Linked DNA regions of Homo sapiens: regions 1 and 3 are each linked to region 2. The links come from fine-mapping of genetic effects on gene expression. A gene starts in region 2. Each other region holds a variant in brackets. All regions are shown on one strand. Distances are between the middles of the regions.

Region 1 (11,316 bases), 31 kb after region 2:
TACATTGCCTAGGCTGGTCTCAAACTTCTGGCCTTGCGTGATCCTTCTGCCTGGGACTCTAGGCACATGTCACCGTGCCCAGATAATTTTTAAAACTTTTTATAAAGATGGGGTCTTGCTACTTTGTCCAGGCTGGTAGCAAGTTTGTAGGCTCAAGTGATCTTCCCACCTCAGCCTCCTGAAGTGTTAGGATTACAGGCATGAATCTCTGTGCCCAGCTTCAATTTATTTTCTATGAGTGGAACAATTCTGCATAATAACAAGGTCTTCATGGCTTGGGAGGAAGTGGCAGAAGTAGAATGAAGTGGAAGTCATTGGATTTGATGAAGTTGAAGAAGCTTTGCATTAGGGTATTTTATAGGCTATCTACATGGGTGATGAAATCTCAAGATGATGGTAGGCCTTTTAATGGAGTGGAAGTCTATGGTCTAGTTTTCAGATACTTTAATGAATGATCGGAAATAACAAAGAGATTGGAAGTAGACAATAGTGACGACATGTGGAAGGTAAACCGCATTTAATGATCTGGATGCAGCATCAGGGACTGAAGAGGTTGCCAACCCTACCTCCCTACTTGAAGTGTGGTACATTGAGCAACAACCATTTGAGAGTGATGGAGGGAGAATAGTTTTTTGGGAGGATAAATTCAGTTTTAAGTTGAGACTTAGCTGGCAGAAGCCTCCTGTAGTAAAACTAAAGATGCAGGAAAAATTGTTTAGCATGTGCCAGGGGTTCCAGAGGACACAGTAGAAGGAGAGCTCAGAGGGTGAGGGTTTGCGCAGGAGGTGGGCATATGAGAGAAAAATAGCACAGTAAGGGTGGTGACTGAAGCCAGTGTGGATGGGGGGGTATGTATCTTGAATTGTCACAGTCCTTTGCCCACTGCAGAGAGCAGGGAGTGCCACTGTCTTAATGTTTGGATTTTTTCAGGTTTTCGAAAGGCCTTACACTCTGACCGTCCTCCTTCTGCATCTCAGCCCAGAGGGGAACTTATGTGTTATAAGGCCAAGACATTCCAGATGGACGATTACAGTCTCTGTGGGTTGATAAGTCACAAGGACCAGCACAGTCCAGGTGAGTACCTTTATAGGAACATTTTCTCAACAATGTTTTTCTGTCACATATACAGGACTAGGCAAGCTAAAAGCTTGTAGTTACAGCTATGACAAGAGATGCATGTTTCTCGAAGGGACCCCCCATGCATTGGAAAAGATTCATTCCTCCACCCACAGAACCAGCCTGGAAACTTACCATGCAGATGAGGCAGGCCTCGGTTCACCCCTGCAATCTATAGGGACTGACAAACTAGCCTTCAATGTTCTGCTGCCTGTGGCTTTCTTTACCCAGGAGTTCATCTGTTTGAAAAGCACTGGGCAGAAGGTCAGATTTGTTCCGCCCCTATGTTTCCCAGGGTCAGCCTAGCTAGGTTCATTAGGATATCATATAGGACCTTGAAACCTGCTATCCCAGTGGAGTCTAGGGTGACCCCTAGTCGAACAAACCCCCTTGGCCATCTCAGCTCACACAGCTTGCCTGCGGGCTGCCCTCGCCCCCCAGCAGAGCCCTGCTGCCACCATCTGTGAGCCCCTGTTCCACTGGTCATCCTTTCACAAGTAGGGTTTGAAGACCGATCTTCTGGATGTTGTCTGATGACTTTCTTTCTATTGCATTCTTGCTATGGCCTGTCTCTGAATTTAGCAGCCCTAAATTCAAGTGTGCTGAGGTGCCGATAGCTCCACAATTTCTCATTCTTCTCTTTTCTTTCTCCTCAAAGGCTTTGGAGAGAATCACCTTGTGCAGCTGATTTACCACCAAAATGCAAATGGTTCCTGGGATCTGAATGAAGATCTAGCCAAGATCCTAGGTATGAGTTTGGAAGAAATAATGGCTGCACAGCCTGCCGAGGTAAGATTCAATGGAAAAAGGAGTATGTATGTTTTTGAGAGAGAGGTCATCATTGAGAATTGAGGTGATTCAGGACCTACCTGAGGAAGGAAAATATAGGGGGTCATAGACTAAATTAATTTGTAATAAATAGAGGCTGAAGGTTTTTCCAGTCATGTTAGAGCAGAAAGATCAAGGGATTAATGGGGAAGCTAGTAGGAATTGATGGGGTTTTTTTTGCTGGTGGATGACAAAGGGAAAGCAAAAATCCTCTTCCACTTTAATCGTATTCCCTGCCAATCATCTTGGTTATGTAACTAATACTTAGTGAGCAATTACTCTGTGCCAAGCACTGTGCTAAGCAGTTAATATTCATGAGCTTATTTATTTCACACATTAATTTAATAAGGTAGATCCCATTTGTGTTGCTGTTTATAGATGAAGAAACTGAAGTTCAGGGAGGTCTAAAAATGTGTCTGAGTTTACCTAGCCCATCAGTGGCAGAGCCAGATTCAGTTCTAAGAGTATCTGTCTTGAGAACCCCCAATAATAACCTCATTATTGCTCCTCTTCATACCGATGAAAGTGGTCCAGACATTGGCAAAAGTTAACTGAAGTCAGGATAGGTAAAGTGTTGTTACTAGGAACCACCTAGTTGTTTCAGATGTATTTAAATATGCTGATAAGGATAAATTGCATTCCAGAATTTCAAGGTAACTTACAAAATCTTCTAACGCTCATTGAGAAGTTGTTAGGCATGAGACAGGTGCAAAAAGCCTGAAGGACAAATATCATTCTAAACTTTCAAAATGTGGAAGGAGATCAAATAAATTTCAGATATTCTGCAATTCCACTGTCCAATACAGTATCCACTAGTCACATGTGGCTATTGTGCCTTTGAAACGTGGCTAATACAAATGAGGAACTGAATTTTTAATTCAATAGAGGTGTGCTATGGTGGGAAATACATACTAATTGCAAAGACTTTTATAAAAAGGAATAAAACATTTCATCAATAATTATTTTTATATTGATTGCATGTTAAAATGATGACTTTTTAATAGATTGGGTTAAATAAAATATATCAGTAAAATAATTATACCTCTTTTACTTTTTAAAATTTGGCTACCAGAAAATTTAAAATTACATATGTTTCTAGCATTATATTTTTATTGGAAAATGCTGTTCTAGAAAAGTAATTAAGATGATAATTCATACACACTTGGAAGAGGATACAGGGATTATTAGATGCACTGGGAACAAAAAACTTCAGACTGACATTTCCTTCTTTGGAATGGTAACCAGGCCAATGAATCAAGTGAACCAACAGACCTGGTATATCTGAATTTCAGTAAGGAATTTGATTTTTTTTTTAATGATGAGAACATGGACCAAGTACAAATTAGTTGAAAACCTATGGCGCTGAATGATGAATTGATTTCAAACATGAAACAGATTTTTAGACCCACCAGGCTCTGAATTCTCTGGAGGTCCACAGTTTCAATGAAGATTTAGATGAAGATAAAGACCAAGACTTTCCTATTTGTAGATGACAAAACTGGGAGATAAACTATCAGTCAAAAGAATCAGGATCCCAAAAAACCTCTGAACAATGAGTTGCAACTTTTCATTAAAAAAAAAGAAAAACAACATAGTAGGAATAAAAGCTAAGTACTGTTTTGGGTTCCAAATTCCCAACTCTACAGGTAGAGAAGAGAGCATTTGCACATGAAAATCAGAGGTTTTAGATGACTACAACTGTGTGAATCAGAATATTTAACTAAGAAATGGAGGACAACAGGGTTACCTGAAATGGGCTGTGATTGTAGAATTCTATAAGTACATTTACCTCCAGATAGACCATTTAAGGAGATATATTTTTAAAATCATTACGCTGTTTGTTTTTAGACTAGGAGAACAAGCGTGGGGATGCTTACTGCTTTGACATAAGCAGTCCTCTTAAGGAAGAAATGGAGGAATTGAGAATTCTAATCTGAAATAAGACCACTCAGAGAGGACATGATAGCCATTTCCAAGTTTTAAAAGTCATGATATAAAATAGGAATTTCCCTTGATCTCCTGACTCTGAAAGCTGAAGCTGGGAGCAGTGAGCGAAAACTCATGGGAGACAATTTTCTGCTGCATGGCTGAGATTTTCTATTGAGAAATAAGAGAATATAACTAGAGTCAGAATATTTGGCCTTTAGTCTCACTTCTGTCGTTTGCTAGACAGCTAAGTTTGAGCAAATCATTTTGTTAATACTTCTATATGAAATCAGTTTTCTTTCTTAAAAATGTTTATTGATATTTTTTCATGATTTCTTTGGTGGGGGGGTATAAGGGTTACAATTAAAAAAAACTTATGAAGGTTCTTTATAAACTATAAAGCAGTTTTGCCTGTGTTTCTCTTACTAGAGCTGGCCTTGTCTTAGGGGTTTCCAGAACCGTCCTGGTGGTTACACTGGATTTAAAACTTAGGATTTTCTATTTCGAGACTCAATGGATTGCTGCCCTGAGGTTTAAGGCCTGGCATTATGCCTTGCAAGTAGTATCTGGAGGTAAAGAGAGACCAGGTAACTCCATCTAGTGACATTTAGAAGGATGCTAAGTGAGGAGGGAGTGAAGCTTTTTGCATCCTTTTGAGGGACTTCCTGTGCCAACTGGAGCTCTCTATCTACTGTGCAGCTTGTGGATTCCTCAGGCTGGGCCACCATCCTGGCCGTGATCTGGCTGCACAGCAATGGTAAGGACTTGAAGTGTGAATGGGAGCTTCTGGAAAGGAAGGCCGTGGCCTGGATGCGTGCCCATGCAGGTAGGAGCACAATCCTAAGGCCTGTCTCCTTCCCCTTCCCTGGCCTGGCGGAAGGTGACCACAAGAGAGTCCCATTGTCACCTGCCTCCACCATCCTGCTTCAGATCTTTACTAATCTTTCTGCTAGTTCTTTTCTTGGGAGGACAAGGGTGAAATATTAAATTGGGGACAAGGTAGGTGGGTGAGTAGGGAGGGAGAGGGACACAAATGGGGAGTGTGAACTGTGAGAAGGACAAGTGGCATTGATTCTCCTTACTGTCTCAGTACCAAGCTGAGTAGAAGACTAGACTTGGTGCGTGTTCTCCTGGCTGTTTGTTATCTCACTGCAGCTGAGTGTATCTGGGGCCAGAGAAGATTCAAGGAGAATCTGGGTAGCAAGAAAAGAAAAAGCAGGGATATTGAGGACAGATAAAAGCACAACTCAGGGTAGATGATCTGGGAGGTTTGGAGGAGCCTCTAATTGCAATCCTTCATCCCTGCTTCTTGTTTTTCCTCACCACAGGCTCCACCATGCCTTCGGTTGTGAAAGCTGCTATTACTTTCCTGAAGTCATCTGTGGATCCTGCTATCTTTGCCTTTTGAAGATACCATCCAGAAAAAGAAGTGCCTTTAATTTGCTACTGTCATTTCCTCTAGTATCACTTTTGCTGTGATGATGTGTTCTTGTGT[A/T]TTATAACTCTTTATTTTTTGCCATAAAAGTAAAGGATGCTTACTCCACTTCGCTTCTCTGCTCCAGGTTCACTTTGGATATGATCTTTCTTTTCCCAACATATGCCCTCAGAAAAGTGACAGTGGTCCCAGAACCTATTCCCTTTCTTGAGGGAGTTCAAAACATTCATAGGCAGTAATGTTCCTCCCAGGGTTTCCAGGGAAACAACATGAAAAACAGGTGACATGAACTACAGACTAAAGATTGCAGCATTTATGTTAGAGAATGCTTGAATTAGAGAATTTTCTGCATTATCTTTGTCTGTTCACTTTCTATCTTATATACTTATCAGGGCCATACTGGTAAGCTTGCGTAGGAGGAGTTAGAGGGAAGTTGAAAGCCAACATCTGGATCAATGTAATGTCAAGATCACAAAGACAGAGACTGCAGGGGTCCACTGTGAGAGGTGACACTGTTGGGGACCTTCCTGATTCATTCTTCTTGGGCTTTGCTAGCCTGTACAACCTACATGTCTTTTCTTCCACTGCCTGAAAGACTTGGGTTGAACTATAACTGTTGGAGAGAGATGTTCCTCTTTAATCATGAAACACCTTAAGAAGTCTATAATGCAATCCTTAGTCCTACCCTGAACCTATGTGTCCTCTAAGTCAGGCCCTGATCTAGTGCAGTAAAGGGAAGGGTGGGCTTAATGGGAGCTTTGCCTGGGACCTGAACCTGGAGCACTTACCGCATTAGGAAGAAAGGAGCTCCCCGTAATCGTTCCTGACCCTTGTGTCTCATATACCCTATCCTGGTGGAAATGACCCTATTTGATATGCTGTCCCTTAAAATAACTTGTATCAATATTAAAATGACTATTTCTACCCTTTGATGAGTAAATGCAGTGGTTCTTAAAGTGGTCTCGTCTCCCTACCCCACAATATTTTGGTACTGCCACTTTGGGAAGCCAAACTAGGATAGTAAATTGACCGGAACACAGTTGTGGAAATTTGACCTGAAGTTAGTGAAATAAAACTTAGTAGGGAAAAAAAGCTTAGCAAGAGGTCTACTCCTCCATAGATTCATTTATTGAACTTACATTGGTTTTATTGTCCCTTGTTTTCTGTTCCAGCTTTTCTGATGCCTCCACTGTTCCCATGGTATCCTGACCCTCTATCTTCTGTTGTAGGCTGACTTCTTTTATATGAAGCAAGTAAAGGATACTAATAAGAATACCACTGTAGAATCCTGACCATACCCTTAAATAGTTATGTGATGATGGGCAAATGATTTCACCCTCAGGCACTTAATATCCTCATCTGTAAAACTAAGGGATTAAACTAGAACTTTATTAACACTTTCGAGTTCCACTCAGAATTCCTAGAGGAACATCGGTGACTTTTCACTCAGAAAGTGGGTGGACTAGGCCTGAGTTTCTTTAAGTTGTTGAGTTACCTGGTATTAGGAAGACTTGTGTGACTTGCATAGTGGACTCTAATCTCTCAGTCTTTCTTCCAAGTTTGTTTATGCTGAATGTGATCTGCGGAACAGGGTTGTTAGAAATGCAGCTTTTTAGAAATGCAGAATTTTAATCGATACCAGGAACTACTTTATTTAACAAGGCTCCCAGGTATCATGCATGCACATTGAAGTTTGAAAAGTAAAGGCTTAATATTTTCATGAAATAGGCTTATATCCAAGCCTGCCATCTAGATAGGCCCTACCTATGTAATTTCAGAAAATAGTTTCTTAAGGACCGTGAAACTTGTATAGTTAACCTCTGTGCACACAATGCTGTGACTTTACATTTATTATGCGGAGCGCTTATCGTTTACCTCCTTTTTTCTCACCCTTCAACTTCCAGACTGGGGCTTGTGGACTTAGTGCGGGGCGTTCTAAAACAAAAACTAAACGAACTAAAAGAAACAAAAAAAAAATTATCAACCTGTCTTTTGACCTCTTTAAAATAAGACAACTACAGTTTTAAAGTGGCGTGGTTTTATTTTTCCATTTGGGCTCCTGCACAGTGAAATGTTGTGCCAACTGTAAATTCCTCGAATCTAAACAAGTGTCAGTCTTCATAATCAGCAAATGGCATTTTGGCACATTTGTTGAAACCCCATTTCAAGTCTGATGCTTTATGTTTTGGGAAAGTATAAAGAACCATCTGTAATTTCAGAAACTGGTGGTCCAGGCAAGGAGCCCAGGAGAGAAGCTGTTCTCATCTCCCATTAGTTGCCTTTATCTAGTGCTTGTTTCCCCCACAGCAGCAGACTTGGCCACAGGAAAAGTGGCAGATACCATTCCCTCAAGATTCTTCCACTCAAACAGGCCAGGAGCTCCCCTGGAGGGTTCTCTGTTCTACACAGACTTACTAATGAAATCCATCCTCCGTCTTCCCCAACTCTAACACAGTCCCACTCAGGGTCACTGAGCATCTGCTCTTCCTCTCCCAACTCACAGCAATTCCTTCCTTAAAAACAGTCCATCTGCTTTCTGGAGTATCTGATTGACCAGGAGAAAACCAAAAAAAAAAACCCATGCAGTGAACTGTGTATTTTATCAGTTTTTACCTCATATATTTTGATATTCTCCTAAGTGCATATACATTTAAAATTATCATACATCCTTGGAAAATTGACTCTTTTATCATTATTTAATGCTCAACTTTATTCCTGATTTTTGTTGTTGTTGTTCTGAAGTTGGCTTTGTCTGAAATTTACGTAACTACTGCAGCTTTCTGCTGATTGGTTTTGGCAGGGTGTATCTTTCTCCATCCCTTCACTTTTAGCCTATATGAGTCTTTTTATTTAAAGTGGATTTTTGGAAACAACATGTGGTTGGGTCTTATTTATTTGTTTTTGTTTGCTTTTAATCCACTCTGGCAATCACTACTTTTAAATTATCGACCCATATCATCTATATTTAGAGTAATTATTGATAAAATTAGGTTAATATCTACCATGTTTGTCAACTGTTTACTATTTATTGCATTTTTTTCTTTTATTTTTTCATTTTTGCCTTTTCTCACTTTAACCAGGCATTTTGTGTGATTTCATTTTATCTCCACTCAATATATCCATCATATTTCTTAAGAATTTTTTTAGTTTTAGCTCTGGGGTTTGCAATATGCATTTATCACTAATTTAAGCCCACCTTCAAGTTACACTATATCACTTTACATGTAGTGCAGTTACCTTATAACAGAGTATTCCTAATTCCTTCCCATCCACTATGACATTGCTGCCATTCATGTCACTTATGTCTATATTTTAACTACCTAATTGTTACTATCATAACTTTAAACAGTTATCTTTCAGATCGATTAATAAGAAAATGAAAATACATATTTCACTTTTATTTATTTCTTCCTGACATTTCCTTTCTTTGCATAGATCTGAGTTTCTTACCTGTATCCTTTTTCTTCTTCCGGAAGAATTTGTCTTAAAACTTCTTGTAGAACAGATCTGTGGGCAATGGATTCCCTTAGTTTTTCTTTTTGTCTGGGAAAGTCCTTATTTCTTCTTCACTTTTGAAGCATAATTGTGCTGAACTTATAGCTCCGTGTGTGTGTGTGTATGTGTGTGTGTGTGTGTCTATTTTTTTTTGAGACAGATTCTCGCTCTGTCACCCAGGCTGGAGTGCAATGGCGTGATCTCGGCTCACTGCAACTTCCACCTCCTGGGTTCAAGTGATTCTCCTGCCTCAGCCTCCCGAGTAGCTGGGACTACAGGCACATGCCACCACACCTGGCTAATTTTTTTTATTTTTAGTAGAGACGGGGTTTCACTGTGTTAGCCAGAATGATCTCGATCTCCTGACCTTGTGATCCACCTACCTTGGCCTCCCAAAGTGCTAGGATTACAGGCATGAGCCACTGCGTCCAGTCGTCTTGTCTTTTAACACTTTAAATATTTTACTTCAATCTCTTTTAGCATGAATAGTTTTTGGCAAGAAATATGCTGTTATTCTTTTTCCTCTATAGGTAAAGTGTTCTCCCCCTCCTGCCCCGCAGACTTTTGGGATTTTCTCTTTGTCTTTGGTTTTCTGCAGTTTGAATATTATATTTGTAAATGTAGGGCCTTTTGTATTTATCCTTTTGGTGTTATTTGAACATTCTGAATCTGTAATTTTGTGCTTTTCATTAATTTTGGAAAATTTTTGCTATAACTTCAACTATTTTTCTGCTTAGTTTTTTCTTGTATTTCAATTGCATGTTACACTGTTTGAAATTATCCTGTAAGTTTTGAATGTTCTGCTCTGTTTTTCCTATGTGTTTGTTTTTTATTTTGTTTTTGTTTATATCTTTACATTTAAGTTTAGGAAGTTTCTATTGGTCTATCTTCCATTCCAGAGATTCTTTATATAGCCATGTGAATGTGTGTTTGTTTTTTATTTGGTTTTTGTTTTTATCTTTACATTTAAGTTTAGGAAGTTTCTATTTGTCTATATTCCATCCCAAAGATTCTCTTCCAGGTTTGTAAATGTCAGCAGTGACTCTGAAGTCACCTGTCTCTCAGGATTTCAGAATGACTATTTACCTGTGTTCTCAGTTTCTAAAGGGTACAGATAAATGAGTTTTGTATTATTCCATTCTTGCATTGCTATAAAAAGAAAACCTGAGACTGGGTAATTTATAAATAAAAGGTTTAATTGGTTCACAGTTTGGCAGGCTATACCAGAAGCATAGCAGCTTTTGGGGAGGCCTCGGGAAACTTAGAATCATGATGGAAGGCAAAGCAGCTGGTGTCTTCATGTGGCCAAAGCAGGAAGACGAGAAAGAGGAAGGAGGTGCTACCCACTTTTAAACAACCAGGACTCGTGAGAACTCTGTCGCAAGAACAGCACCAAATGGGGAAATCCACCCCCATCATCCAATCACCTCCCACCAGGCCTACCTCCCACACTGGGATTACAATTCGACCTGAGATTTGGGTGGGGACACAAATCCAAACCATATCATGTTTGTTCAGCTTTTTCTTGTGGTAATGGTGAGAGTGATGGTTTCCAAACTCTTTGCATGTTATAGTTGAAACTGGCCTCCATGTAGTCTGATCTACCAAATCTCCACACTTCACTGACCCTTCATTTACAGAACTGTACTTTTTGGAATTTCAGAGGTAGAAAACATTCTTTTTTCTATTGTGGTCTATCCAAAGTTAAAAGTTTGGGTTTGTTTGTTTTGCACATAAACCAGTTTTTATTACTAAGTGATGTAACAAACAGACATCCTTAATGGTGAGATATGAAAATGAGGTGAGGTGTGGGGAAGAATTCAGTAATGCAGTGAGGGTCAATAAATAGACAGAGTCTCAGGTAGGGATGAGGGTATAATGTTAGGCAATTCTTCTTAAATAATAATAAGCATAGTCATAAAGCTGAAAGTGGAATTGTATAGAAATATAGTCAGGCTTACTTTTAAATATATATATATTTAAAAGTATATATATATACTTTGTCAGCGATCAAGCTCTATATAGACTTTAGAATCCATGCCTTTTTTAGTCTTTATTTCACTTTAAAAAAAAAACAGCTTAGTGAAGTGTAGTTTATGTACTGTGAAATCCATTCACTCACTTTAATTCTTTTTTGAGGTACTGTAATTAACAGTTTAACATTCAGTGGATTTTTAGGGTAAAGACGCTTAAGCTTACAAGCATGTTTTCTGCTTTACTGAGGTACAATAGACAAATAAAAATGATCACTCTGTCTTTTGATTGGAGAATTTATTTCATTTACATTTAAAATAACTATTGATAAGTGAGGACTTATCACTGCCATTTTAATTGATTTCTGTTTGTTTTGTAGTTGGCTTGTTCTTCTCTTGCTTTCTTCCTGTATTTGATTTTTTTTTGGTAGCAATTTGCTTTGATTATTTTCTCTTTATGTTTTGAGACTTTTCTTTGTGGTTATCTTAAGGCTTTCATAAAAATAGCTTGTATTTATAACCATCTATTTTAAGTTAGTAACA
Region 2 (11,316 bases):
AAATTTCTGTCCTTATAACTTCAAATATTATTTTTTAAAATTTTAAATATTTAAGTTCCTCACCATTTCTAGACCCACAACCAGACAGGTTCACAGCCATCAAAGAAATGAGGAACTGAGAATGATAATTTAAATAGTAATTTAGGGTTGCAACCATAATAGAAATAAATATAGCTTTCCTAGAAGATTCTATTCAAATCCAAACATTTGTCTAGAAAAGAGACATCATAGAATATTAAAAAGAACTTAAATCAGAGGTTTAAAGATTCAAGCTCAAGTTCTGCTACTTGGTGGTGTGACTATGGGCCAGTAATTTATATTCTCTGAGCCTCGGCTTCCCATCATTACAGAAGCAGAAAGTATTCCTTGCACCAGTAGCCTAAACCTTAACTAGGCAGCTAAAAATTATCATTCAAACTAGGACACTTTAAGAGCAAAGGGGAGCACGATTAATAATTAAGGCGGGACAATACAGGTAAAATAGGACAGTTCTTTGTGTTTCACCCACCTGTATTTTGATATCTACACTATAATTGTGCTTCTTGAATATGTGGAATGTTCTTATAATTGTGCTTGGTTTATACTAAGCACCCACTCATGTTACTATTAACTGAGATATTTATCTTACAGAATCGCTGTAAAGATTAAATATGGTGATGTTCATGAAAGAGTTTGATACCTAATAAGATGTTATATAATAGTTCATTATTATTATATTTACTGTGGGGAGTCCATATAATATATATATAAATAATGAATATGTAATATTCATTATTATTATATTTACTATGGGGAGTCCCATGCTAAAGAAGATTGGAAAACTCTTTAGCATGGGACTCCCCATAGTACATATAATAATAATGAAAATGATAGTCAATGTCTTAAGCCTGAATGATATCACTAGGAGAGATTGGTGTAGTCAAGACAAAATAGTACTGGAGGCCAAACATTGAGAAATACTACATTTTAGGAAAAGGAGAAGGAAAGGGAGTCATTTAAGAAGAAATGTACATATCCTTCAGAGAATTAGGAAGAGAACCAGAAGAATGTCTGTTATATATATATTTGTCTGCTAAAGATTATTTATTTTCTCCATGTCAAGGAATATAACCAACTAAATTTTAATTCTAAGCAACTCTGTGGGGCTTGGAATGTGATGGATGCTGAATTCATTAGTAACAACAAAAGGAAAGGAATCAAGAAATACATTCCTAAATGCTGTATGAGAAGGTGAGTGGAGGAAAAGACTCTGGCTGCCATATAGAATGAGAAAGAAGCACTTCACGGTGATTTCTTCTAACAATTCTTGCTACTCAGGTCTTTGGAGTGAGGAAAACAAGTAAAAATTAAGGAAGTTGAGGAGAAGCTCTGAATACTTACATAGTCACAAGGATCACGACCAGCTCAATTAAGGAACACAAATGTTTTTAACCCTTCTTTTGTCTTCTGTTTCTTCTATAGAGTATGGGGCTCTCCATCCCAAACATCTCATTTCTCAGCGTGCCAAGGAGTTGGGTTTGAGTTCTCCAGTTGCAGACCCCAAACGGCTTTTTCTTTTTCATTCAGAACCATACAGAAGATATTATACATCTGATGGCTGCCCTATGGCCTAGGATGACTTCCTCAGAGTTAGCGAAAGTGAAAATATCCCCTACCTTTGTGGAATTTTAAATGGTCTCATAGTCCCCTGGAGCCTCATCTATGATCTATTCTGAGACAGGGAGCAGGAGCCCTCTGAGCACAGGGATCAATTAAATGGCAGATATTGGAAGAGTTTAGGAGTTAGCAAACAGGATGCAGTAATCACGATACCCTTTAAAGGAACTGGGAATCAAAGAGCTGTGGATCCCTCCTGACCACCCTATTTTTCTGGTTTGGGTAGATATCTCATCAGTCTCTTTTGTTCTGTGCAGACTTCAGGGATTTGGCCTACCAAATCTGTCATTTTTCCAGTTTCTACCCATCCCTATACCTCTTATGGCTGTGGAAGAAATTATAACATAATGAATAGAATACTCACTTTGGAGCCAGAAGGTTCTGAGTGCGAAGAACAAGTTTGTTTCTCATTAGCTATATGTCCTTGAGCAGGTACCTGGTGCTCTTTGAGCCTTCACTTTGTGTTGTGTAAAATGCAGTTATGATAGTATTTCACAGGGTGATTTTGAGTGTTTAGATAATGCTTGTAAACTTTCTGACATACTGTGTACCCATGAGATTTATATTTCTTGAAATTGGATAAACAAAGATTTCTCACCTCTTTAATTTCATTGTTAGAATCCTTCCTTTTGCTTTTCCCCCCACTTGCTCTTTTCCTCTTTTCCTTCCCAATTTTAAGATGAGGGTTTTTTAAAAACAATGGTGGTTTTGTTTTGTTTGTTTTAACGATGAGTAATTAAAACCAAAAGATGGTGAGCAGAAAAAACTACCAAACCAAAACTAAAATAATGTTGCCAGATTTAGAAAAAGTATAAGAAATCTCAGAATCCTTTTCATGAAAGTAGCCTTTCTATGTGGAAATCTAAGTGGCATATAGTTTTCCAGATTCTCAAAATTCCGCTGGCCAACCCAACAAAAGGAAAGTGGAACTAACATTTAGAGAATGCCAACTTGTGACATATGCCTTAAAACTTATTTCATTTAATGATTACAACATACATATAGACTAGGTATTATCAGTTCATTCTACAAATGATGACATGGACTCGGAGTAGTTAAATTGCTTTCTCACAATTATACAACTATTAAGAACTAGAGGTAGGACTCAAGCCCCAGACTGAATCTAAAGCTCATAGACTTAATTATGTGACAGACCGAGGTAGATCCTGATAAATTAGAACCTGGTTTCTTGTTTTCTCTACAATTTTCCGAACCTCTGGATGAGCAATATATGTTCTTTACAAGCCCTCATAGATTTTTAGACACTTGAGCTGCATCCTGCCTATCCCCTTTGGCATTTGTCTAGGCTTTGGGTTTGTCAGGAGCATATTTGCTTGTAATCGATGAAAATTGTTACTTTTAAGCAATGGTCACTCTCATCCAAGAAATTTCTGACAAACTACTAAGTGATTTGTGATCACAGACATTATTCCTGTCTGTAATTAATGTAGTTTGACATACTATGTAAAACACTTAGCACTGGTTTCAAATAGGAACTCAATATATAGTACTATGCATATTTTTAAATTCACTCTATCTATCCATTCATTCATGATAAGTTTCTGCTGAGCCCAGGTTGTCTGTGATATCTTCAAACACTTAATTTCCAAGTTATCGGTGATCATATGAAAATTATACCTATTAATTATAATTGTTATCACCAATATGTAATAAATGCTTATAAGATTTGTGCACGTCTGAGCATTTGTTATTTGAGCTTTTGAAATCTATTCTCCAGTATCTATAGTGGATTGCAATCACAAGACCTAAGCGTATATACAACCACTGGGATTTGTATGTATTTATTCATTAAACAAATAACTTCATGACTTTTAAAAACTTACTTTCTTAAAGGTTTACAATTTTAAGAGCACATAAAGGGCTCAAGTATGATAAAAACGGCAGGAAGTTTTAGGTGAATTGCTATGGAAACATCAGAGGAGAGAGAACAAGCAGAACTGGACACTTAAAACTCCATGATGATAGAGAACATTGAAGAAAGAGAATAACAGAAATGAGACAATGACCGAAACGACTTATTGAAAGCCTGTTCTGAACCAATGCTAAGCACTCTATGACAAACAGCCTTTTTATTTCAGGAAGGGAAATGGCTCTCAGAAGAACTGAAGAAAAATAAGTAGCAAACTATGATCAACATAATCAACACACACCGGCATAATTCAGGGCACATGTGTTACAGTGGTGGGCGCTAAAATAAATTGGATATTGTTCTCATAATATGCAGATTTCTATTTCCATTATAAGCAAATGTGCTTTTCATATTCTGAAGAAGATAGTTTCCTTAAAAGTCTACTTTTTAATTAATCATAATCAAATGTATTAGGGTAAGATAAGGACCCAAAGAGCTGTTATAAACCATGGAGAAATTTGTTACTTTATCCTGTAAAATTCTGTGATGATACAGTGGCTTGCTCTATGAGAGTCTCAGGGGCTCAGGATCTTTCTGTCTTGTTGCTTCTCCATTTTTAGGGGAAATGCTCCAGGCTTTATGATCTAGTCTTTATGGTTCAAGCTGGTTCAGTTACCTGCATTCACACCAATGAGCAGGAAGAGGGTAAAGTGAATGGGAAGCCATCCTCTTTTCTTTGAAAGGGCATGACATGGTGTTGCACTTATTTCTTGTACCCTATGGGCCAGAGCTTAGTTACAAGGCCACACCAGCTTTAAGGGAGGCTAGGCAATGTTTTTATTCTGAATGGTCATAGACATTGTGAAACTTGGGGTTCCTGTTAGTATAAAAAAGAAGGTGAGAATCAACCTTGAGGAATGCCTGGCAACACTAAGACAGACTTTTAAGTGAAGATATCTCATCTATATCGGTTTAATTGTGTATATTGTGCTAGGTTATGGGAATTTTCACATAGTTGTTTTTTCAACAACCAGCAACTTCTGTGTGTTTCCTGATTCAGTGCCCTCTAACCACGCTGCATGCCTGGTCTGTGGCAGACTTTTAGTGCTAAGCTCTAAGCCCAGCAGGATCAGATGATGAACTCTGCCCACGTTTCCAGCTCCTCCCTTTTGTTGCTCAGATGTTTCGGCCAATGGAAAGAAGGCACAGTCACAAGGAACAATACCAGACATGATTTCTCTCCAGAGAAAAGGATAATTTCCTCTCATAATTAGTTCAGTACATGTAAAAAACATGGTTGTAGGGCCTAGTACTGATAAAATAGAATTTGTGCTTATATTATGCTTTACTATATATGCATATATTACATGCATGTAACTGTATATACATGCATGGGTGTACATATATACACATATATACATCTATGCATGCACATCCATGTATATAAATGTGTATGTGGGTGTATATATATAAAGTATATAAATGTGTGTGTGTGTGTGTGTGTGTGTGTATATATATATATATATATATATATATAAAACTTTTATAGCCACTAAGATTCATTAGATCTCACAAAAACAATCAGTGGAGGTTTGTCATTATCCCCGTTTCAGATGAGAGAACAAATAACTTGGGGAGAGTTATTTGTATATAACAAATATCTCACAAAAACAAGTATATAACCAGTATATAACAAGTATATCCACAAAAAATACATCACAGAGACCAAAATCAAGCTGTGTTTTCCATATGTATCATGTATTCTTTATCCTATAGATTCTCGACAGCAATATGACACTTTAAGTCTCAGATTTAATAGGTTGTTTTGAAATAGAGAAGCCATGGGGACCTTGATCGCTTCTAATGTCCTTTAGCCAGGTAAATGAGCATAGACATTCTCAGTTACTTACATCGTTAACCCAAACATTTGGTTTCAGGATCCCATAAGCGACCCATGACAGGAAGACTTGGGCTTCCCTGGCTAGAGCTTCTCTCATTAGAGCAGATGTGTGTGCCTTGCACTATCTCCTTATCTTTCCCCCTGCTGTAGGGGAGGGGCAACTTGGGGGAAAATGACTCACATTAGAGATAAGGTGTCAATGATATAATCTCCATAAAGCTTTGATTAACAGGGCCCAGGACACAGTAAGCCTTTGGCAATTAAGCTTTTACAAAAATATGCAGTTTTTAATGTCATTGTTGTTGTTCCTGTTGCAGCATTTTCCCTTGCCCTCTTTGCCTGTTCTCTGATTGTTCCTTAGCAAAGAGCAAAGAAAAAAACCAAACGTTCCAAAGTCGAAGACTTTTCCTTTGATACAAACAAGCGAAAGTTCGATTATTTGTTCAATAATTTTCCGTTGATCCCTTAGTCTTGTAGTCGCTACTTTATAACCGGTCCCTAGAAGGGGGCGGTTCTTTCCGGAAATTATGACTGCAGCTGTTTTCACTCCGCTGTGACTCAGAGCGCTCCGGGCTGCAGGAGAGGAAGGTAGGGGACCAAGCTACCGGTGCAGGGCCTGGATCCAACCCCTGCTCTGGAAGACTGAGAGCTCCACATTCTAGCTCCCTTTCCCCAGTCCCCAAATTTGTAGGGGCTCCTTGAATTGCACGCCCCATGGGTGGAGGATTTCATCCTGATGTATGATCCCCAGGAAGGTTCCTGCAAGTTTGGCAGTTTAGGGGAATCTTTTGGAGGTTGAAGGAGGGATTTAGCCATCTCCTAATCTCAAGGCCCTTCTTCCTACTTTCCTTCTCTTTTACTTTACTTTTTTTCCCGCTTTCTTTCTTTGATATAGACAATTGATGTTTTCTCAGTTTCAGGATAGTGTAAGCTGAGGAAATGAGGCTGTAAGCCTCATCTACTCCAATCAGTTGCAGCCCCTAAGCCCTTCTCTATAGAAATGTAAGAGACCGACGCAGTCTCTTCTGTAAATACGTGGACATTGGAAATCTAGGACTGAATGGAAAGGTTAAATCAATCTCTGATTTTATCCAAGCCCCACTTCTTACCCCAAATCTCCTCCTTGTCTGGTTCCGAGTTCTCCACTTCACCCCTGCCACAGGCCGCAGGGGTGTGTGTGGCCGGTGGTGCCACCCAGCTCCCCTCCCACCCTCCTAGCTGCTGAGCGGCTGGTGCTGGGACTCTGCATTCCTGAAGCAGCTACCTGGCTAGGCCGGAAGCCTTGTATTCTCCCAGCTGCCTCAGATTCATGGCTTTCAGCTTGGTGGCCAGTCTCTACCTAAGCCTTGCAAGTTGCCTTTCTGAAGTGCCATCCTGAGAGACAGAACTAATTCTGACCCAAACTAATTTTGTTTGTACTGGGAAGAGTGGGGGCAAGGGTGCAGAATAGCAAGTTTTCCTCAACGGAGGATTTGTTCTGAGCTTAGAATCAGGAAGCGAAGGCTATTTCCTTGTAGGGGTGCCCTTTGCGTCTCTCTCTCTTTTACTCTAGCCACCTTGGTGAGTATTGCCCAGCCTGAGAGCTTCTCTTTCAGCTGTTTTACTCCTGTGTGAGTCTCCTGCTTTAGGCTCTCTGCTTAATGTGTTATTAGAAATTCTTCCCTCCCCCAGCCCAGCCTGTTCTACCAGAGAACTTGCCCAGGTCAGAGGTCTGCGTAGAAGCCCTTTTCTGAGCATCCTCTCCTCTCCTCACACCTGCCACTGTCCTCTGCGTTGCTGTCGAATTGTGAGTCATTTTGCCACACTCAGTTTTTATCCAATTTCTCAAAATAAAAACAGATATGGAATGAAAAGCCTGATTTATTGGTGCTGTTTAGTGGGGGTGCAAATGTAGGCTATGTGCCTATATAATATTTAAATATATTAGAATATCTTGGATGGATACAAACAAATATACTCGTATCTTTTAATTTTGGGTCCCAAAAGAAAAGCCACAAGGTAAATGGCCTGTGGCAGGAGTCCATCTTGAATCACACAGCTTCTCACATGCAGCGCGTCTCTGAATGCCATGATCCAAAGTGAATGGTGGCAGAGGTTTATTGATTAACAGTAACAACAATAATAGGGACAATAGTGATGTCTGTCATCATTGATTAAATGCCTCCTATGGCCCATGTGCTATTGTAGGGACTTCACATGTATTAATTCACATACGATGTGTGGATATTATACTACTCATTTTGGAAAGAAAATACTGAGGCTCAGAGGGATTAGTGACACCTACTCCATATGCCCAAGGAGTGGTGAATTAAATACACTTTTGAGAAAGTGGAATTGGTATTTGAACCAGCCTCAGGGTGTTTCAGAGATTTCCTGTTTAGTAGATACCAGTGAATCTTACACCTTCCCCACCTGGGACTGCCATTTAAAAGGACCCTTATGACTGAAATCTTTGTCTCCTTTTTTTTAAAGGTTCCAACTTCCTAACTCCAACATTAACCCTTTGAATGTATTCTTATGCCAGAGAAAGGCACATAAAGTACTGGTGTTTGAACAGATAACTTCCAACATGTCCTCTGTTTGTGATATGTCTTTTCTGCAGAAATCTTGCATCACCATGGTGCACTTCTGTGGCCTACTCACCCTCCACCGGGAGCCAGGTAAGCCTAATTTGTGACTCTTACTTGCCATTGAATCTTTGGCACCTATCACAAGGCTTGATCTACAAGGAGGCAATCTATTGAAGCTTGATGAACTTGAACTCTGGTCTATCTCCAGTGCCGCTGAAGAGTATCTCTGTGAGCGTGAACATTTACGAGTTTGTGGCTGGTGTGTCTGCAACTTTGAACTACGAGAATGAGGAGAAAGTTCCTTTGGAGGCCTTCTTTGTGTTCCCCATGGATGAAGACTCTGCTGTTTACAGCTTTGAGGCCTTGGTGGATGGGAAGAAAATTGTAGCAGAATTACAAGACAAGATGAAGGTAGTAGAGATTACCTCCTCCCTTCTTATTACATTACCTCCTCCCTTCTTATTTCCTTAATGCATACTCTTTATGATCTCTACTAAATGTACCTTCACAAAACATGCTGATGTTGAAAGCTCTTTCTTCCACTCTTTTCTAACTGCCATTTTTCTAAAATCATTTGGGGAAAGAAATCAATCAGAGGCATTCAGAGTATAGCTGTGATTAGACAAGACCAATCACACAGTCGCTCTGCACTGCTCGTCTCTTTTTCAGCCATGTCACCTTGGATGTTCCCTTTCTTTCCCATCCCTCGCCCTGTGCTTCTCAGGCCCGCACCAACTATGAGAAAGCCATCTCCCAGGGCCACCAGGCCTTCTTATTGGAGGGGGACAGCAGCTCCAGGGATGTCTTCTCTTGCAATGTGGGTAACCTCCAACCTGGGTCGAAGGCGGCAGTCACCCTGAAGTATGTGCAGGAGCTGCCTCTGGAAGCAGATGGGGCTCTGCGCTTTGTGCTCCCAGCTGTCCTGAATCCTAGATACCAGTTCTCTGGTGAGTACCTCTCCCCTTTGAATTCTAGTGGTGGGTGACATAAATGGGGAAATTTTCTTAAGGTTGAGAGTGTCATAAAAAGTGTTGGCAAGGAAAACAGAACTAAGGTCATCTTTTATAGGGTCGTCTAAGGACAGTTGCCTTAATGTGAAGACTCCTATAGTCCCTGTGGAGGACCTGCCCTACACACTCAGCATGGTCGCCACCATAGATTCCCAGCATGGCATTGAGAAGGTCCAATCCAACTGCCCCTTGAGTCCTACCGAGTACCTAGGAGAGGACAAGACTTCTGCTCAGGTAGTTAATGAGAGAATACTGCTATTGTCAGTACCTCTGTTGCTTGAGTCTTGACTTGGTCCCCAACCAGTTCTTCCCAAGTGGTAACCCAGAGGGGGTCCCACATGCTCCTTGCATATCGTCATTTAATCTCCAGAGCCTTCTCTCCAGCCTCACCTCTGTTCCTAGTCATGCTGTCTTATGGAGGAGGACTGCGCCCTAACCTCAGCCCCAAGAAGCAAGAAGTTATGATTCTAATGTGGCTCCTTTACCTGTCCTCCACTCAGGTTTCCCTGGCTGCTGGACACAAGTTTGATCGGGACGTGGAACTCCTGATTTACTACAATGAGGTGCATACCCCCAGCGTGGTTTTGGAGATGGGGATGCCTAACATGAAGCCAGGTATTTTCTTTCTTCCTTTGTAGTCATCCCCTAAGGGGCAACTCCCTGTCTTGGAATTACTGTCGAATTACTCTCTTTTCTTTCCTTCCCTCCAGGGGTGGTTAATACATGTGAAACACTGAAATAGTTTACACTATGTCATGCAAAAATGGTTAGGTTTAATGACTGTCATGTGATATGTCTTGTAGGCAAATTTAAGTAGATCAGTAGATAATTGGGCAAAAGCCAGGAACAGATAATTTACAAGAGAAAACATGGCCAGTTTATAAACATGTGGCAATGATCAGTCTTGACAGACATCCAAATAATCATGTGACATTTTCACCTTTCAAATTATCAACGATTTCCAAATCTGATGCCTCATGCTTTAAAAGGTTTTCTTAAGGTTGTGAGTGTGCTAAAAAGTGAACTAACCTTTCGAGGATAAATTTGGCCATATGTGTTAAATCAATGTTAACTTTGGTAATTTCACTTTTAGAAATCTTGCCTAAGGAAGTAAATCCATATATAAGTAAAAATATGCACTGAGATGTCCCCCACCATTTTAATAATATCGAGTATTAGTAAGCAATCAAAATGTCTCTTATTGGCTAAATTTGCTATGCTAGGTATACTTCATGAGTTAATATGCAGCTACTAAAATAGTGTATATTGACAGATTGAAGTAATTGGACAAATGACCTCCAAAGAATGTTACGTAAAAGAAAAGTAAGTTATAGACAGATTACCACTATAAAATACTCTGTGCTTTAGGAAAAACATTTTAAAACACAGGAAGAATGCAAGTAGTCATTGTGATTAGATTGACTAAGTTTAATTCTTAATTAAGAAAGTTCTTAATTTCTTTTTTATCTAATACATAATTTCTATTGATTGATTCATCACAGCTACATGCAGTCTCAACTGAAGTTTTTTTCTCTTTTCGAGATATAATATATGTAACAAAATTGACCATTTTAACTGTTTTTAAGTGTACAGTTCTGTGGTCTTCAGGACATTCACCTTGTACAACCATCACCACCCTTCATCTCCAAAACTTTTTTGTTTTGCCCTAGCTTCTTAATTTCTAAGACTAAGTTTAGCTTCTTAATAACTTTAGTTTCTTAGTTTCTTTTAATGTTTATTACTTTTGAAATTTTCCTTAATGTACATGCACTCTTTCTTGGAATTTAAATTGGTGTAACCCATGTCAGTTTGCTGTGTTCTTGGGGCCTTCCTGGGCTGCCATGCTTCTGAGTTTCGGTGACACAGGACTGGAGTGCTATTGCCACTTCTGAAGCATTTACACATGGTGGAATGGACATGTCCTTGGTGACAATCATATTCAAAGTGGGACGGCTTGGCTTAGGCTCTTGTTTTTACAATTATAGCTGTTGTCAAGAAAATTCCCTGTAGTTGTTTTTCTACAGAGTACCCTACTCTCTCATTGTTAATGTTTGCTTCCAAAGTAGCTTCATACTTGAGCTCACAAATTGAACTTTTTAGTTTTCCCTCACTTGTTCAACCACTCTTCCTCAGGGCAAGCTCTCCATGCTAAGGTCATTCAAGGGGCTCCCAGCTTCCACCAGATTTGCTGTAACCATCTCCTCTTCCACGAAGCTCCATGCTCTGTCTTTGTACGTTAGTTATCTGCTTTTTCCTTTCCTTATGGTGACTATTTCCTTGGGTGTCCATGAAATATTCCCATAACAGTGA
Region 3 (11,316 bases), 50 kb after region 2:
TGGCATCGTCTTCTCCATCTTGTAGATCTGCTCTGCCGAGGGCCGACGCCGTGCCTTCTCCACCTGCAGCGCCCACCTCACCGCCATCCTGCTTTTTTACATGCCAGTGGTCCTCATTTACCTGAGGCCTACCCACAGCCTGTGGTTGGATGCAACTGTTCAAATTCTGAATAACCTGGTCACCCCCATGCTGAACCCCTTAATCTACAGTCTCAGGAATAAGGAGGTGAAATTATCACTAAGGAAGGTCTTATATCAGCTGGGCTTCCTTCCTGAGCAGTTGTAGAGAGAAATAAGTAACTAGCGCTTCAACCACACTTCATAGCTTATAACCATTTTTATTTAGTTGTCACACATATTTTTGAAATTGAGGGCACAGGTATTATTATTTCCATTTTACAGTGTGGAGACTAAAACTCAAAGTAACTTGTCCAAGGACATGTAAGCTGTGAATGGCAGAATGAGGACTCTAGAGCTGGTTTTGTGACTCTGGGGCCTGTGCTCTTTTGAGGAAATCATACTGCTTGAGAGGGAGGGAGAGAGAGAGAGAGAGATTGAGAGAAACTCTTCTCAGTAGGCAGAACAGCTTGGAGCTTCTGCTTCTCAATCTGTATTTTCTTCATCCTCCTACATCCCCTCCTCCTCTTCATTTCCCTCACACCATGACATTTATTCATCTTGACTACAGTGACTATATCCTCAAATGCCTGCATTGGATAAGCCCTCATTTTTATGCATCTACAAGTTGTTAAAAATGTTATTCAGTCAAAAAGGAATGAAGAATGCCTCCTACAATGTGGATGAACTTGAAAATCTAATCCTCAGTGGAAAAAAAAGCCAGACACAATAGGTCACATATTGTGTGATTCCATTCCTGTTAAATATCCAGAGCAGGTAAATCCATTAAAACAGAGGAAATTGACCTTTTTTTTTTTTTTTAGTTTGACTGTGGGGTGATGAAAATGTTTCGGAACTAGGTAGAGGTGATGATTGCACAACTCTGTGAATGTGCTATGTACAACGTGAATGTGAATGTACAAAATTCCACTGATCTGTTCACTTTAAAATAGTTCATTTTTTGTTATGTAAATTTTACCTCAATTTAAAAAATCATTCTCTCAAAAAAAGAAAAGAAAAGAAAAACAAAAAGTGTTTTTTTGTTGTTGTTGTTGGTGGTGGTGGTGGCGGTGCATCCCAATTTATTTAAACAGCATCCTGTTATTTCTGAACCATAAGGAGGTTGTATAAAGAGAAAGGCATCTGGCTGGGACTTGAGGCAGTCTCTTATGGGTAAAGCAGAGATACTAGTGTGCTGTATCACTTCCAAACCCTGCCTGCCAGGCTTAGACCTGGAAACAGGCCCTGGGTGTGAAGAAGCAGCATGTGAATGAGATGCGAAGGTAGGTAGGGGAATCCAAACAGGGGCAACTGTACTGTGATCCCACGTTAGAAAGGCTGGCTTTGGGCAGGGCACGGTGGCTTACATCTGTAATCCTAGCACTTTGGGAGGCCAAGGTGGGTAGATCACCTGATGTCAGGAGTTCGAGACCAGCCTGGCCAACATGATGAAACCCCATCTCTACTAAAATACAAAAATTAGCTGGTCATGATGGCGGGTGCCTGTAGTCCCAGCTACTCGGGAGGCTGAGACGGGAGAATCCGTTGAACCCGGGAGACAGTGGTTGCAGTGAGCCAAGATCACGCCACTGCACTCCAGCCTGAGTGACTGAGTGAGACTCCATCTCGAAAAAAAAATAAAAGAAAGTCTTGCTCAGTACAACGAAGAGGCAATGCTGGGTCCAAGATGTCATTGTTTGGTGTCTTTGCCTTCTCTGTTGACTAAAAGGGTTCGATTTTGGACCCCCTCTTACATTTCTTTATTTTTTGACTGAAATATGCCAATAATGAGAAATGAGCTATTGTTTTCATAACTGAATTCATTGAGAATCCTATCACACTGGGGAAATATGTTGCTGTGAAGTTTGCTCTAACAGGGCTGTAAAGAGGATGATGGAAGAGGAGAGGGCAGAAGCAGAGACTAGTGCTTTTTCCCCACCTGCACTTCTTAGAATTAGAGAGCAGTAAAGAAACGGCCAGAACAAATGAGCAACACTGTATCCATGGCTCCAGCCAGTGGGTGAGCCTGCACAGCTCCTGGAAGGGAGACAAACGTTTGCCTGGTCACTACGCAAACTCCTAAAAACCTCTTTCGGTGCTGTTTCCCCCTTGTTTTCCAGTAAACAAGAGCCTAAAAGGGAAGCTAGAAATACATCTCAAATTATTTCAAATTTATTCCAAATCGCAAGCCCTTGTCAAGCCTCTTTGAGTCCACTCTGAAGATCCCTTCCCATGCCTCAGTGTACTGGTGTAGCTGCACAGTCAGTAAAAACAGACAAATTTGTAAAGATAAAAGATGAGATCTGATTCCTTTTCAAATCTTCACTCATTCAGAGTTGTTTGATGAATAACTCTGTGCAAGGGCGAGGAATGCAAAATGAAAAAGATATGACCCCAGCTGCACAGAAATCAGAGTCTGCTGGAGAAACAGACATACAGCTAACTAGAACGTCCCATCATTAAGCTATGATCAAGATGTACAATACAGCAGAAAATCTGGAGTGCATTTTCCTCATTTGAAGAAAGGACCTTACAGAAAAGGTGTTGAAGATTGAAAATGTTGTGTTGTTTTTTCCGTATTAAGAATGGCTGAGGAGTATTTTCCAGGGAGAGGCAACATACTTCTCAGTCTTTATATGTGCAGGGAGAGCAGTGAGAGATTATTTGGGCAGGTATCACTTAACTATTTGCCATTTGTGACTAAATGCCTTTGCAGGAAAAAATAAAATTTAGTGTGCCTTCTGTTTTCAGGGTTCTTCTCCAGCTCAGTTCTTTGTTCATTGGACTTGATGTCTTGAATAAAAAAACTATATCCCTATCTCCTTAAACAAGTTGACTTCTCTGCTTGTCCCAGCCGTTCTGAGAGATGCTGTTCTTAGGTCTCCAGGTAGTGTCTGAGTTCTCTTTCCACCTAAGCAGGAGCCTAGAATGCCAGCCCCAACCTGGAGGCGTGCAGGCCCAAGTTGGGTGTGAGGGTGAGCTGAGATTTTTCTGTGTTCTATAATCTAAGGGGTAGTGTGAGAAGAACTTGAGAAAAACTGTGAAAGGGAAAACCTCAAACCAGGTAGACAATCCAGAAGAATATTTAACCCACAGGGGCAAAGCAAGACAAAAAAATCAAGTGTCGAGACCAGGGAGGCCAGAGAAGAACAAGAATATTGAAGCGGAGGATCAGAGGATGTTTTGAGCAGAACAGGCTCCAGCATAGCCTTTCCTGAGACAGTGGGTTCAAGCATGGTCTAAGAGGGGCATCCAGGACCTGATGCCAAGTGGATTCTAGTTTCTTTAAAGGCTTCTTTGTTCTCCCCCAATTTTTTTTTTTGCAAGACACTCCTGTATTCTCCAGTCACTGTTCCTTTTTGCTCTTTTCTAATTTTTTTTACGAAACTGATGCCTGTTCTGAGTTTCATTTAGGTGTTTTGTTTTACATATAGTCCCAAGAGCACAAAACTATGATGGGAGCATCCAAAGTGAAAACTTATGATGTGGACACTAAAAGTGAAGCTAAGGTGATGGCCGCTGACATGGCAGGGGAGGATTGTGAAGAGGAGTTTTCAAAGGAGTGTTCACAGGTGTTGGGACCTGTTCTGTTTATTTCCTGCCCTCTCAAGTCCCCTGCTGGTTTGTTCTAAATCAAATTGATTGAAATGAATGAATAACCAGTCAGAAATCATGTTTTCGGTCACTAAATTTGCAATTACTTTTGGTCAAGGATACTGACTCCACCTTTGCAAAAATAACTAGTCAAGCTAAGAGAATAGCATTATTACATTATATGTTGTATTGGTTCACTTAGGGTAAGAGGGGCAATAATACTTGTTATTGTTGGAGTGCTACATTGGTGAGAAACAATTGAGCCTACTATATATCATTCCTTTATTTTACATTCTGTTTAAAATTATTATTTTAATTACTGTTTTGCTAATAACCTATAATAATGATACCATCAAAAAGCCATTCTTTATTGTCCTGTTGGATGTCTGTTTTTAAAAAATATTTTTATTAAATATTAAACATTTAGAAAATAATACTCATGAAAAATATGTAAAATATAAGGAACTGTGATACAATGATACAATGAACACATGCATCCCATTACCTAGTATAAAAAAAAAGAGTAATGCTAGTGCCTTGGAAGTTCTCCGTAGACCTTGGCCTGATCACACATCCTTCTTTCTCTCTAGAAGTTATCATTCTCTAGAGTTTTGTGTGTATTATTCCCTTGATGTTATTTGCATTTCACCTGCTATGTCTGTGTCCCTAAACACCTATGTTTGTAACCCTTCTTTGCAAAGCTTTGAACTTTTATTAATACAATTCAACTGAAATTGGCTTTTTTCACTTAAATATTACATATATATTTCAATTTCCTCCCCTTTTATTTTCAGTTGACACACAATAATTTTACATTTATGGGATACAGAGTGATTTTCAATATGTGTGCACAACGTGTAATGATCCAATCAGGGTAATTAGCATATCCATCACCTCAAACATTTATCATTTCTTTGTGTTGTGAACTTTCAAAATCCTCTCTTCTAGCTTTTTGAAAGCATATCGTAAATTATTGTTGACCATATTTACCCTATTGTGCTGTAGAACACTAGAACTTCTCCCTCCCATCTAGCTGTAACTTTATATCTATCAACCAACCTTTTCTTATCCTACATTTTCCCTTCCCCTTCCAAGCCTCTAATAACCACAATTTAGGATCCCTTAACACATAAAGAAACTCTCTGAAGGTAACTTCTAGAATAGGCTGAGGAGATGTGGACAGAGGTCCTAAGAAATATGGTCATAATTCATTCACATCCTAACGTAGTATCTTTCCACAATGCAAACCACATACTACTACTCTGTTTCTTTTGGATCTTCAATAATTGTTTGTTGCATATAGGTTGAATTAAAACAATTCAGTACCTTATCTGCAGAATTAATAATCAAAACAAACCTATCTCTTTAGTTTCCTCAAAGCCATAAGTTCCCCCAGCAACACCCCATCTCTCTTCTTCTTGCCATTCAGTGTTTAACATAATATGTATTAAATAGATACTGGTTTATTGAAAGAACAAATCAATGTATGAATAAAAATATGAAGTGGTATATTTAAACACTGGAGTTACAAAGATCTGTGTGTCTTATTCTTATGAAGCTCATAGCTAAGGATGGGAGGCAGATATAGAAATAATTAAAATAATATGTGATAAATATTTAATGAAAGTATATAAAATTTAGAAAAGCAAAATGAAGGCAGAAATGATTAATTCTGTGCAGATTTTAGAGAAGACCTAAAAACATTTAAAATAGATTCATTCACAGTTCTGTGACTTAATACTTTCTTTTTTTTTTTTTTTTGAGACGGAGTCTCGCTCTTTCGCCCAGGCCGGACTGCAGTGGCGCTATCTCAGCTCACTGCAACCTCCGCTTCCTGGGTTCACGCCATTCTCCTGCCTCAGCCTCCCGAGTAGCTGGGACTACAGGTGCCCACCACCGCGCCTGGCTACTTTTTTGTAT[T/G]TTTAGTAGAGATGGGGTTTCACCGTGTTAGCCAGGATGGTCTCGATCTCCTGACCTCGTGATCTGCCCGCCTCGGCCTCCCAAAATGCTGGGATTACAGGCGTGAGCCACCGCACCCGGCCCTTAATACATTTTAATGTCCCCTCTTCGTATGCCCTTCCCTGATTCCTCTGCTGGACAAACTTCTACTCATCCTTCAACATCCAAGCTGACAAGTCATTTTCTTTAAAATTTTCCCATCTTAGACATATTTTTTTTTCTGTGTTTTAGTTTTATATCATGGCATAAAACATTATCTTACTACGTCAAAATAAGGTTGGCAACATGACTTTTAACAGTTAACTAGAGGCAGAGAGGTAAAGAAAATAAGACAGATGAGTAGTCACAGTTCAGAACTGTCCAAACCTTCATTTGTTGAATAAATAAATGAAAGAATGGTTTGTGGAAACATTTCATTGATGATCAGCACCTCAGTCTATACATTTATTAGATGTTATTAAATGTCTTCTAGGAACAGACTCATGCTGTACTTTGAGAATACTAATGTTTATGCTGACAGAGGTAACAGAATCCGACATACATGATTTGAATTTCATCTTAACATGTATGAACTTATGATTTTAACATGTTACTTAGCTAATTTAAATTGTTGTATTGTAATTTTGTAAAATAGTAATATTTAAACCTACTTTAATGGTGAGGATTGACTTAGTTTTTTTTTAAACACTTAATATTGTATCTTGAATATAAAAAAGATTTGATAAGTATGTTACCTTCCCGTCTTTTTTTTAAACTTTTTTAAGTAAAAAAATAAAAATAAACAGTAACAGCAAATCAGTGTTCATGGTAAAATGATTTATATTCCTTTGGGTATACACCCAGTAATGAGATTGCTGGGTCAAATGGTACTTCTGTTTTAACTCTTTGAGGAATCATCACACTGCTTTCCACAATGGTCTAACTAATTTATACTTTCACCAACAGTGTATAAGCATTACCTTTTCTCAGCAATCTTGCCAGCATCTATTATTTTTTCACATTTTAATAATAGCCATTCTGGTGTGAGATGGTGTCTCATGGTGGTTTTGATTTGCATTTCTCTAATGATCATTGATATTGAGTTGTTCTTCGTATGCTTGTTGATTACATGTATATCTTCTTCTGAAAACTGTTCATGTCCTTTGTCCACTTTTTAATGGGGTTGTTTGTTTTTTCTTGTACATTTGTTTGTTCCTTATAGATGTTGGATATTAGACCTTTGTCAGATAAATAGTTTGCAAAAAAACTTTCCCATTCTGTAGGTTGTCTGTTTACTTTGTTGGTGTGTGTGTGTATATATATATATATATATATATATATATATACACACACACACACACACACACACACACCTATATATATATACACACACATATACCTATATATACACATATATATACCTATATACACACACACATATATATACCTATATACACACACACATATATATACCTATATATATACACATATATATACCTATATATATATACACATATATATACCTATATATATAAACACACACACACACACATATATACATATATATATATATATATTGCGGTGCAGAAGCTCTTTAGTTTAATTAGATCCCATTTGTCAGTTTTTGCTTTTGTTGTGATTGCTTTTGACATCTTTATCATGAAATCTTTGCTCATGTCTGTGATCAGAATGGTATTGTCTGGGTTGTCTTTCAGGGTTTTTATAGTTTTGGGTTTCACATTTAAATTTTTAATTCATCTTGAGTTGATTTTTGTATATGGTGCAAGGAAGAGATTCAATTTCAATCTTCTGCATATGGGTAGCCAGTTATCTCAGCATCATTTATTGAAAACGGAGTCCTTTCCCCATTGCTTGTTTTTGTCACCTTTGTCAAAGATCAGATGGTTTTAGGTGTGTGGCTTTATTTCTGGGTTCTCTATTCTGTTCTATTGGTTTATGTGTCTTTTTCTGTACCAGTACCATGCTGTTTTGGTTACTGTACCCATGTAGTTTCACGTCTGGTAACATGATGCCTCCAGCTGTGTTCTTTTTGCTAAGGATTGCCTTAGCTATTCAGGCTCTTTTTTGGTTCCATATGCATTTTAAAATAGTTTTCCTCTAATTCTGTGAAGACGTCATTGGTAGTTTAGTAGGAATAGCATTGAATCTGTAAATTGCTTTGGGCAATATGGCCATTTTAATGATATTAATTCTTCCTATATATGAGCATGGAATGTTTTTCCTTTTGTTTGTGTCATCTCTGACTTCTTTGAGCAGTGTTTTGTAATTCATGTTTTAGAACTCTTTCCCCTCCCTGGTTAGCTATATTCCTAGGTATTTTATTCTTTTTGGGGCAGTTGTAAATGGAGTTGTGTTCCTGATTTGGCTCTCAGCTTGGGCGTTGTTGATGTATAGGAATGCTAATGATTTTTGTACATTGATTTTGTATCCTGAAACTTTGCTGATGTTGTTTATCAGCTGAAGGAGATTTTGGGCTGAGATTATGAGGTTTTCTAGATATACAATCATGTTGTCTGCAAACAGGGATAGTTTGACGTCTTCTCTTTCTAGTCAGATGCCCTTTATTTCTTTATCTTGCCTGATTGCTCAAGCCAGGGCTTCCAATACTATGTTAAATAGGAATGTCGAGAGAGGACATCCTTGCCTTGTGCTGATTTTCAAGGGGAATGCTTCTAGCTTTTGCCCATTCAGTATGATGTTGGCAGTGAGTTCGTCATAGATGGCTCTTATTATTTTGAGGTATGCTCCTTCTACCGTAAAGACATATGCTTGTGAATGTTCATTGCAGCACTATTCATGATAGCAAAGACATGGAATCAACCTAAATGCCTATCAGTGACAGATTGGATAAAGAAAATGTGGCACATATACACCATGTAATGTGATGCAGCCATAAAAAAAGAATGAGATCATGTCTTGTGGAGGAACATGGGTGGAACTGGAGGCCATTATTTTTAGCAAATTAACACAAGAACAAAAAACCAAGTATCACACATCATCACTTATAAGTGGGAGCTAAATGACAAGAACTCATGGACACAAAGAGGAGAACAACAGACACTGGGGCCCTTTTGAGGATGGAGGCTGACCAGAGGAGGGAGAAGATCAGAAAAAGTAACCATCTGATGTGGCAGCACTGCTCATATGGGGGCACCAGCTGTGGCGGGGTCTGTCCCTTGCAGGCCCCTGACCCAGCAACGGATGAATGAAGTACACTGACACACAGATATTCTGCTTTGCCTGTCCAGCTGAGTGTGTCCAAGCTGCTTACAGACTCCCTGCTGAGTCCTGTAAACAGTTGCGACTCGGCCTGATCAGCTAGTGAGACTCGCATTTATTCAGTAAGATTAATTAACAAAGGCTTGAGTCAACACCATTAGAGGGTATTGACATTGTGGACTTCCCTAGTAGAAAGCACGTAAGCACCCGGGATACATCAAAGTTTAGTCTTAGATCACAGAGTAGTTAGGTAAACTGCTCTGCCTTCCTTTGTTACTACTTTAATTTGTTTAGCTAAAGGTAAAGGGACCAGGTTGCCTTCAGTCAGATCTATTACCAAAGTTATGCAAACTTCTCAGCCTTCCAAGAAGATTTGTGTCTATCTCTATAACTATCTCTAATATTTTTCCCACCAGCTTGATTGAACCCCAACAATCTGGTACTAGGCTTAGTACCTGGGTGGCAAAATAATCTGTACAACAAGTCCCCATGGCAAGAGTACCTATATAACAAACCTACACATGTACCCCTGAACCTAAAATAGATAAAATAAAATAAAAAAATAAAGAAAATCAGCATTCAACTTATAAACTTTTTCTTTGGAAACAACTCTTCAAGAATACTAGTGACAGTGTTTAAGAATGTGCTAGGCTTTGCGGTCAGACAGATCTGACTTTAAGTTTCCACAAAGTCACTGATCATTTTTGTGGCCTTAGACAGGTCCTTTGAGTACAGTCTTGTCAAATGTCTTACAAGGACAATAAAAGTACTTAACTCATACGGTTATTGTGAAGATAAAATTATGTTATCCATGCAAAGAGCTTAGTGCAGAAATTAGCATGTAGTACAAAATTAATGTGTTAGCCAGTCAGGCTTCATAAAACAAACAGAACCAATAGAAAAAAAATATATAAAATAAGATGATAAGGAATTGGCTCACATGACTATGGAGGCTGAAAAGTCCCAAGACCTGCAGTTGGCAAGTGGAGGCCCAGTACAGCTGATTGTGTAAGTTCAGTCTGAATCCAAAGGCCTGAGCACCAGGAGACACAATGATGTAAGTTTTAGCCTGAGGGCAGAAGTCCCATGTTTCAGATCAATCAGTCAAAGTACCAAAGTTGTATCTTTCTTAGTGTTTTTGTTCTACTCAGGCCTTCAACTGATTGGATGAGGGTCACCCATGTTAGGGAGGGCAATCTGCTTTACTCAGTCTACTCATTCAAATGTCAATCTCATAAAAAACATCTCCACAAACACACCCAGAATAATGTTTAACCAAATATTTGGCCATTCAGTGTCCAGTCAAGTTGACACATAATATCAACCACCATAACCAGTATCGAATCTTGAATATAATTTTTTATATAAGCCTTCATTTTAATTTCAAATACTCACTTTATATGTTATTTTGTACTTATGCAATGTGTTGGGTTGAAGCAAAATTGGATGAGACTCTGTTTCCCATTATAGTTCTCAGAATTACTTTTCCTTCAAATGAAGTTACTGAAATGCTGAACCTTTGAACATGTGACCCCACAAAAGTAATAGATATTGTAATTACACAGTCTGTGTCAACCCATTGTATATTTGGCCTTTAGCTATGCTAACAAATTATAGGTAGATATAAACAGAGACTTAGTAAGAAAAAAAAAAAAGCAGCGAAAAAGACCCTGTTCTCAATTTGCCTCAAATCCTCAGGAAACATGAGAAATGACAAGTGTTACTGGTAAATACTACCGGAAATTAAGAATTTCTCAAAACAATTTAACACAACAATACAAGATTAAAGGTTACATTGGATTAAATAGGACTTAGATTAGATGAGCAAACTGATAGGTTTATTAAAATTATAACCATCAGGAAATGTTTGAAATACCAAAAAAAAAAACGTAAAATTTTGTTGTGGTAACTAAGATTTATAGAGCATTTCCCATGCTGTGAACACTATGCTTAGTCCCTTACAATCTTATCTCATCTGGGTCTTATAATAACCCTATTGTGTCCGGAATTGGTGGGCTCTTGGTCTCACTGACTTCAAGAATGAAGCCGTGGACCCTTGCGGTGAGTGTTAACAGCTCTTAAGGTGGTGCCTCTGGAGTTTGTTCCTTCTGATGTTCGGATGTGTTCGGAGTTTCTTCCTCCTGGTGGGCTCGTGGTCTTGCTGGCTTCAGGAGTGAAGCTGCAGACCTTCGCGGTGAGTGTTACAGCTCATAAAAGCAGTGTGGACCCAAAGAGTAAGCAGTAGCAAGATTTATTGCAAAGAGCAGAAGAACAAAGCTTCCACAGTGTGGAAGGGGACCCCAGCAGCTTGCCACTGCTGGCTCAGGCAGCCTGGTTTTATTCTCTTATCTGGCCCCACCCACATCCTGCTGATTGGTAGAGCCTAGTGGTCTGTTTTGACAGGGCGCTGATTGGTGCGTTTACAAT

What was found. PIP is the estimated chance that this variant, and not a neighbour inherited with it, causes the effect.
Region 1: its variant is fine-mapped to the expression of VWA5A in whole blood (TOPMed, PIP 0.92).
Region 3: its variant is fine-mapped to the expression of VWA5A in blood mononuclear cells (TOPMed, PIP 0.98).

The regions. Positions count from the first base shown.
Region 1 is chr11:124,140,668-124,151,983 of GRCh38, forward strand. It overlaps VWA5A (von Willebrand factor A domain containing 5A), which reads left to right. Exons shown (of 19, transcript NM_001130142.2): 16 at 931-1,074; 17 at 1,775-1,905; 18 at 4,570-4,696; 19 at 5,199-7,054. The coding sequence ends at 5,278. Among named protein-coding and RNA genes, the nearest start is that of VWA5A, 31 kb to the left of the region's middle. The variant A/T (reference allele first, on the strand shown) is at 5,366.
Region 2 is chr11:124,109,469-124,120,784 of GRCh38, forward strand. VWA5A (von Willebrand factor A domain containing 5A) reads left to right here and starts at 5,982. Exons shown (of 19, transcript NM_001130142.2): 1 at 5,982-6,014; 2 at 7,098-7,212; 3 at 8,029-8,086; 4 at 8,205-8,407; 5 at 8,721-8,943; 6 at 9,065-9,240; 7 at 9,507-9,621. The coding sequence starts at 8,044.
Region 3 is chr11:124,159,071-124,170,386 of GRCh38, forward strand. It overlaps the pseudogene OR10D1P. Among named protein-coding and RNA genes, the nearest start is that of OR10D3, 19 kb to the right of the region's middle. The variant T/G (reference allele first, on the strand shown) is at 5,632.